2 linked regions of the Homo sapiens genome follow. The protein of the gene in region 1 purifies or fractionates together with the protein of each later gene. This does not show direct contact. Each region holds a gene or a part of one and is shown on either strand. Other genes may lie near its edges.

Region 1 (3,655 bases):
AAAGGTGGAAAGCAGATGGAGGAGATGGAACTGACTGTGCAGACCGAAGTCAACTGATGCCTAAATCAGCAGCAGGAATATCAAGAAGCAGAACTCTGGGAAAGAGACTCCAAGAGGCAGGGGACAGGGAACCCAGGATGATGGCTGTGCAGCCAGAATGCACGCAGAAAGCATGGGGGCGTTTTTGGAACAGAACATCTCCAGGAGAGATTTCTCAAATATTAGATGCATTCGAATACATCAAGAGGAGATACAGACAACGTATAGCTTCTTACTGAATTAGTACGACGAAAATGAAGAAAGGACATAGACACATAAGAGTTACTTCCTCAAGTGAAAACAATGCTGCAAAAGAAAGATAAGGCAGTCACAGTATTTCACCTGGCTCAGCTATAAGTACACTGAGCACTGATTTCTGTTTTCAGGTAATACTGAACACGAATCTAACAAAAACCACAAGGGGACCATCAGGAGGACAGAGAAGAATAAATCGGAGTGACAGAAAGGCTGAGTGTGTGCAGTGGAAGTAAGGGGGTGAAAGACAGCTAAATCTTCATCTTTGATGGTAGAAAGTCAATAGTGAATCTGAAAAATAAGAGGCTGTATATGAACAAAATATCTGGAAATACAGAGACAAATAATTTTTTAAGATAAGCTAAAAGAGTTGAAATTGGTTCCCCTGAAAAGGGTGAAATGGAGGTAGGCAGTAGAAATTTTTGGCTTTTTTTTTTTTTTTTTTTTTTGAGACGGAGTCTTGCTCTGTCCCCCAGGCTGGAGTGCAGTGGCGCAATCTCGGCTCACTGCAAGCTCCGCCTCTCGGATTCTCGCCATTCTCCTGCCTCAGCCTCCCAAGTAACTGGGACTACAGGTGCCCACCACCACGCCCGACTAATTTTTTTGTATTTTTAGTAGAGACGGGGTTTCACCGTGTTAGCCAGGATGGTCTCGATCTCCTGACATTGTGATCCGCCCGCCTCGGCCTCCCAAAGTGCTGGGATTACAGGTGTGAGCCATCACGCCCGGCCAATATTTGGCTTTTTAAAACTATGTGTATGTTTAACTTTGATTAAAATTATTTAAAACAGAGCATGACAGATGAGGAAATAAAGACAACAAGAACAGATGGGAGTAGTTTTGCTGCACAAAGAACCAAAGTAATGGGGCAATAGTTGGAAAGGAATGGAGGCTTCAAGACACAGAGGCAACATCATTTCCCATCTGCTGTATTAAACATACCTGGAACCAATTGTTTTTAGTTTTCTATCTGGCTCACATTATACTTACTGTATTTTGCCAGGTTATTGGCAACTCATCAAAAATAACTTTTATAGGTACACAACAGCCCATCTAACAGCTTTATTATAATTAATATAAACTGTTAAACGTGGATTTCCAACTAGCCTGTCTACAGCAAAAGCAAGAGATAGTACATCTCTTAATTTCAAGTAGTCTGTAATTCAGTTTGTAAGAAAACACAAAAGATATAAGTAATTCAGTAGCAACATTATTCTCATAGCCACAAACTGAAAACAACCCAAAAGTCCATCTACTGTGACTGGATAAACAAGATGTAATACAGCTGACTTTTGAATAATAGGTTTGAACTGCACAGGTCCAGTTACACACAAATTTTTTTCAACACATATACTGGAAGATATTTTGGAGATGTGAAAAAACCCAGAGAGGAGCTAAGTATCGTAGAAATGTCAAAAAAATTAAGAAAAAGCTACGTCATGAATGCATAAACTGTATGTAGGTACTAGTCTATCTTATTTACTACCGTAAAATATACACAAATCTATTATAAAAAGTTAAAATTAAAACTTACGCACACAAACACAAGCCATATATGATGCCATTTGTAGTCAAGAGAAATGGAAACAAATGCAAAGATGCAGTATTAAATCATAACTCCATAAAATTAACTGTAGTGCATACTGTACGACAACTTCACAGCCACCACCTATTGCTCTTGTGGTGAGCTCAGGTGTTGCAAGTATCCACTTAGAATGCCATGTGATGCTGATCACATGTGATGCTGATTATCTCCCATAAGCAGTTTTGACTCTCCAATAAACTGTCTATCACAGTAGAAAGTGATTTCTCGCAGTTCTTGCCTATTTTTAATCTTAGTGCAATATTGTAAGCTTTGGGACCATAGGACCCACCCAACGTGGGTCCCACATAAAGTGCCACTAGTGATGTTGGGAGTGCTCCAAAGCAGCACAGAAAAGTCATGACAGTACAAGAAAAAGCTGAACTGGCCAGGCGCAGTGGCTCACACCTGTAATCCCAGCACTTTGGGAGCCCGAGGCGGGTGGACTGCGAGGTCACGAGATTGAGACCATCCTGCCTAACACGGTGAAACCCCATCTCTACTAAAAATACAAAAAAATTAGCTGGGCATGGTGGCAAATGCCTATAGTTGCAGCTACTCAGGAGGCTGAGGCAGGAGAATCCATTGAACCCGGGAGGTGGAGGTTGCAGTGAGCCGAGATTGCACCACTGCACTTCAGCCTTGGCGATAGAGGGAGACTCCATCTCAAAAAAAAAAAAAAAAAAAAAAAAAGAAAAAAGCTGAATTGCTTGATAGGTACTGTTGACTGAGGCCTGCAGTTGCAGTTGCCCACCACTTCAAGATAAATGACTATACCATAGGACCATTGTAAAAAAAAGAAAAGGAAATTCATGAAGCTGTCACTGCAGCTATAACAGCAGATATGAATACACCTGCAGTTTTGCCAAATACCCCTTTATCTTATAAAATAAAAATAAAGCCCCTAGGCGCCCAGGCAAGACAGAACAGACTGTGGCAATAAGATATCAAATTGTAAACAAGACCTAAGACCACCTGGGCAAGGGTTAAGTCATACACCCTACACTTAAAGAGTAAATGACATTCTAATTGCCACAGGATATTTTTTTTTCTCTAGCAGCTTAACAAGCACTGGCCTTGTGATAAACAATATTAAAACAATTACAGCTCACCAACAGCTAGATACAGATTGACCCCAGCTTCCCTCTTCCCACACTCTGTTCCACAAACAGTAACTACAGCTTTGATTGGACAAGAGACTGATCCCAGTAACATCTCCTGATAAGAGATCACTGACCATGGACTGGTACTACCAGCTTCCAGAGGCAGTGCATTCAGTTGTCATGTCCCTGTCCCTATTTCATCTTGTAACATACAGGATCTAATTGTCAGGTATTTTAAATGTTAAGTCTCCACCCCAAAGCGACCAGGGGTTGTACATTTACTCGGTATACAAGCATTAGGACCCCTCTTATATTCAGAGCTCCTCCTATAACCTGTTAAATAAGTATACTTGGCCAACGCATTCAGCATAAATTCCTGTCTCATCCTTTCCTCCTTCAGAGTGCCTGCTTTTGGTCTCTGCTGAAGGCTATACTTTCCAGCCTGTCAGAATGGCCACCCTGCAGACTGCAACCCTTTCTAAGAAATAAAGTTTCCTCTCCAAATTTATAGATCTTGTGATTCTTTTCTTGACAATCTCAAATTGGAAATGCAGCTTTTATGTGGGTGCAGGATTGTTCTAAGAAAGACACATCTATAGAGTCTAATATGATGGAGAAAAAAATTAAGTCATTATATGACAACTTACAGCAAAAGGAAAATGAAGGATCTAAAGCT
Region 2 (3,655 bases), on another chromosome or scaffold:
TAAAACCAACACAATGAAAAAGGTAAGAGGTGTGGGGCAGGAGATGGCCGGGCGCAGTGGCTCACGCCTGTAATCGCAGGACTTTGGGAGGCTGAGGCGGGTGGATCACCTGAGGTCAGGAGTTCCAGACCAGTCTGGCCAACATGGTGAAACCCCATCTCTACTAAAAATACAAAAAATTAGGCCGAGCGTGGTGGCTTACGCCTGTAATCCCAGCACTTTGGGAGGCCGAGGCGGGCGGATCACAAGATCAGGAGATGGAGACCATCATGGCTAACACGGTGAAACCCCGTCTCTACTAAAAATATGAAAAGTTAGCGGGGCATGGTGGCATGCGCCTGTAATCCCAGCTACTCAGGAGGCTGAGGCAGCAGAATGGCATGAACCCGAGAGGCGGAGCTTGCAGTGAACTGAGATCTTGCCACTGCACTCTAGCCTGGACGACAGAGCGAGACTCCGTCTCAAAAAAAATAAAAATAAAATACAAAAATTAGCTGGACATGGTGGCACCCGCCTGTAATCCCAGCTACTCAGGAGGCTGAGGTAGGAGAATCGCTTGCACCCAGTAGGAGAATTGCTTGCACCCAGGAGGTAGAGGTTGCAGTGAGCTGAGATCATGCCATTGCACTCCAGCCTGGGCAACAGAGTGAGACTCCACCTCAAAAAAATAAAGAAAGAAGTATGGGCAGGAGTAATTAAAGAGACTGTTTAGTTTTTCTACATGCAAAAAAAACCTAATTTTTCAATCTGTTTGTTAAATATTAAAAGGTAATAATTAGCAGAGCAGAAAAAAAGGTGATAAAATTTCTAACTCACTGGTTAAAAAAAAAAATACAAGAAAACTGGAAAGTTAAAAAGTAAGGTAGCAGCCAGGTGTGATGGCTCATGCCTGTAATCCCAGCACTTTGGAAAGCTGAGGTGGGTGGATCACCTGAGGTCGGGAGTTCGAGACCAGCCTGACCAACATGGGGAAACACGGTCTCTACTGAAAATACAAAAAATTAGCCGGGAATGGTGGGGCATGCCTGTAATCTCAGCTACTTGGGAGGCTGAGGCAGGAGAACCACTTGAACCTGGGAGGCAGAGGTTTTGATGAGCCAAGATCGCGCCATTGTACTCCAGCCTGGGCAATAAAAGGAAAACTCCATTTCAAAAAAAAAAAAAAAAGAGTAAGGTAGCAGTAATTAGAAAAAATGTATCAGTTGTCACAATACATATGAACAAGTTAAATTCCTCTATTAAAAGACAAATGTTCTCAAAGTCAGTGAGGACAATATTTAGCCATGTCATTTATAACAGAAATTCCTGTAACAAATTAATTTAAAAGCTAAAAATTAGTACACAAAGGTATGTATACACAAAGATACTTGTTGCAGTGTTGTTTAAAATGACAAAAAAGAAAACACTATAAATGTCTATCAAAAGAATAGTTAAGTAATATATTTTTTAACTATTAAATACTATGTACCGACCAAAAAGAATAAGACAGATTCTTATGTGCTAACACTGCAAGATGTCCAAGACAATATTCATTTAAAAAGAAAGCTGAAGAACAGTACATATGGCATACCTATATGGAAATACATATATATTTCTCTCTAAGTAGTTAAGACATAAATGTCACCTTATTTTACCATATAGGAAGTACATATTAGATTATTTATAAGGAATACAGAAAACACACGTCAAGTGGAAAAAAAAGAATGAAACAAACTATGTATACAGTAAAACCTTAGCTGTGCAAAAAAGACACACTAGAAAGAAACAAGCAGGGCTCAGTGGCTCATGCCTGTAATCCAGGCAATCTGGGATGCTGAGGTTGAAGGATCACTTGAGGCCAAGAGTTTGAGACCAGCCTGGGTGATACAGCAAGACCTCAACTCTAAGAAAAATAAAAAATAAAAAAAAATTAGCCAGGCTTGGTGGTGTGCACCTATAGTCCTAGCTACTCGGGAGGCTGAGGTAGGCGGATCACCTGAGCCCAAGAATTCGAGGTTGCAATGAGCTATAATCACACCACTGCTCTCCAGCCTGGGCAACAGAGTGAAACTCTTTAAAAAAAAAAAAAAAAAAAAAAAGGCTGGGCATGATGGCTCACAGCTGTAATCCCAGCACTTTGGGAGGCCAAGGCAGATGGATCACTTGACCTCACAAGTTCAAGACCAACCTGGGCAACACGGCAGGACCCTATCTCTACAAAAAAATACACAAATTAGCTGTGCATGGTGGTGCGCACCTGTAGTCCCAGCTACTCAAAAGGCTGAGGTGGGAAGATGGCTTGAGCCCAGGAGGCAGAGGTTGCAGTGAGCCAAGACTGCACCACTGCACTCTGGCCTGGGGGACAAGAGTGAAACTCCAGAAAGAAAGAAGAGAAAGGGAGAAGGGGGGAAAGAGGGAGAGAGGGAGAGAGGGAGGGGGGAGAGAGGGAGGGGGGAGAGAGGGAGGGAGGGAGGGAGAGAGGAAGAAAAGCAAAGCAAAGCAAAAAAAGAATGGTTTTGAAAAGAGCACTGAACAATTTACAACAGGATGTATCACAAAGTTTCATTTCTAAATTGGTTTACATTTCATTATCAATTTTCCCACAAGCAAAGTGTTACAGGTGGTCATGTTTCTGAACCACTATACTATAAAAGAAAAAGAGAATGATACTGAGGAAAAGCAATCAACTGGCATTCATCCCTACTATCTGCCACTCACCAGCTTTGTGACTGGACAAATTTCTTAATCTCTCTGAATCTGAGTTTCCTTTTATCTTGTTTTAGGATAATATCTATCTAATCTCTGATCCAATGAGTCAAAAGCTCTTTGAAAAGTGTGTCTGATTCAGAAAATACTCATCCAGAGACATGGTTCTGCTAGAAAATGGAGATACAAGAATAACACAGACCCTTTCCCTTAAACTAATAATCTAGTGCAAAAGACAATTACAACACAGCATACCCTGCTTTAACAGATGAAAGCACACATGTGGGGATATCACACTAGCTAGCAATTATAGAGGGTGGAGGAGAGACCCTGGTGGGTGGCTACCTGGGAACACATTCAAAAAGAAATAGCTAATCTAATCAGAGGGACAGGCTGGAAAGTATAGGATCGAAAATACACATTAAGATAGCATTACACTTACAAAAAGTACATATATTAGAAAGGTGTTACATGCTCCTTTATTTCAGTTGTACACACTTCTCTTCTCCCCAACTAATAATGCCAATCTAGTTTTAAAGACATGTATTACCAACAAACAATCAAGGCTTGGAATCTGTTGAAAGGAAAAGGAGAAAACAGAAACGCAGGGCATCTCAAGTAGACAAATAGTCACTTAGTACTCTGCTATTCAAAGTGTGTCCTTGAGCCTGCAGTATCTGCATCACCTATGAGCTTATTAGAAATACTCTCGCAGAATCCCAAACTTACTGAACCAGAATCTGCATTTTAAAAGGTCCCCAGGTGATCTGTGTGCTTTAAGTTTGAGAAGTACTGACACAGGGGTCTACTAGTTGATTTCTTGAAGTCCTCAGCTCAACCAAGCTGCAATCTACAGGGACTATTAAGAACTAGATAGACTTTCATAATTTACAACATTGTTTTAGTGGAGGAAATAAAATAAGAAAGACATTTTACAGAAGCCTTTAAAATAGGTAGGATCTATGAGGAA

What was found. The genes of interacting proteins can lie anywhere in the genome.
Region 2: the proteins of PNO1 (region 1) and MIB1 purify together in Homo sapiens (affinity purification with mass spectrometry; one large-scale study listed by BioGRID and IntAct). This does not show direct contact.

What each region holds. Positions count from the first base shown.
Region 1 is NC_000002.12:68,167,836-68,171,490, reverse strand, and holds part of PNO1 (RNA-binding protein PNO1), read right to left. Parts: intron 1-3,655. UniProt on the Homo sapiens protein: Part of the small subunit (SSU) processome, first precursor of the small eukaryotic ribosomal subunit.
Region 2 is NC_000018.10:21,747,154-21,750,808, reverse strand, and holds part of MIB1 (E3 ubiquitin-protein ligase MIB1), read right to left. Parts: intron 1-3,655. UniProt on the Homo sapiens protein: E3 ubiquitin-protein ligase that mediates ubiquitination of Delta receptors, which act as ligands of Notch proteins.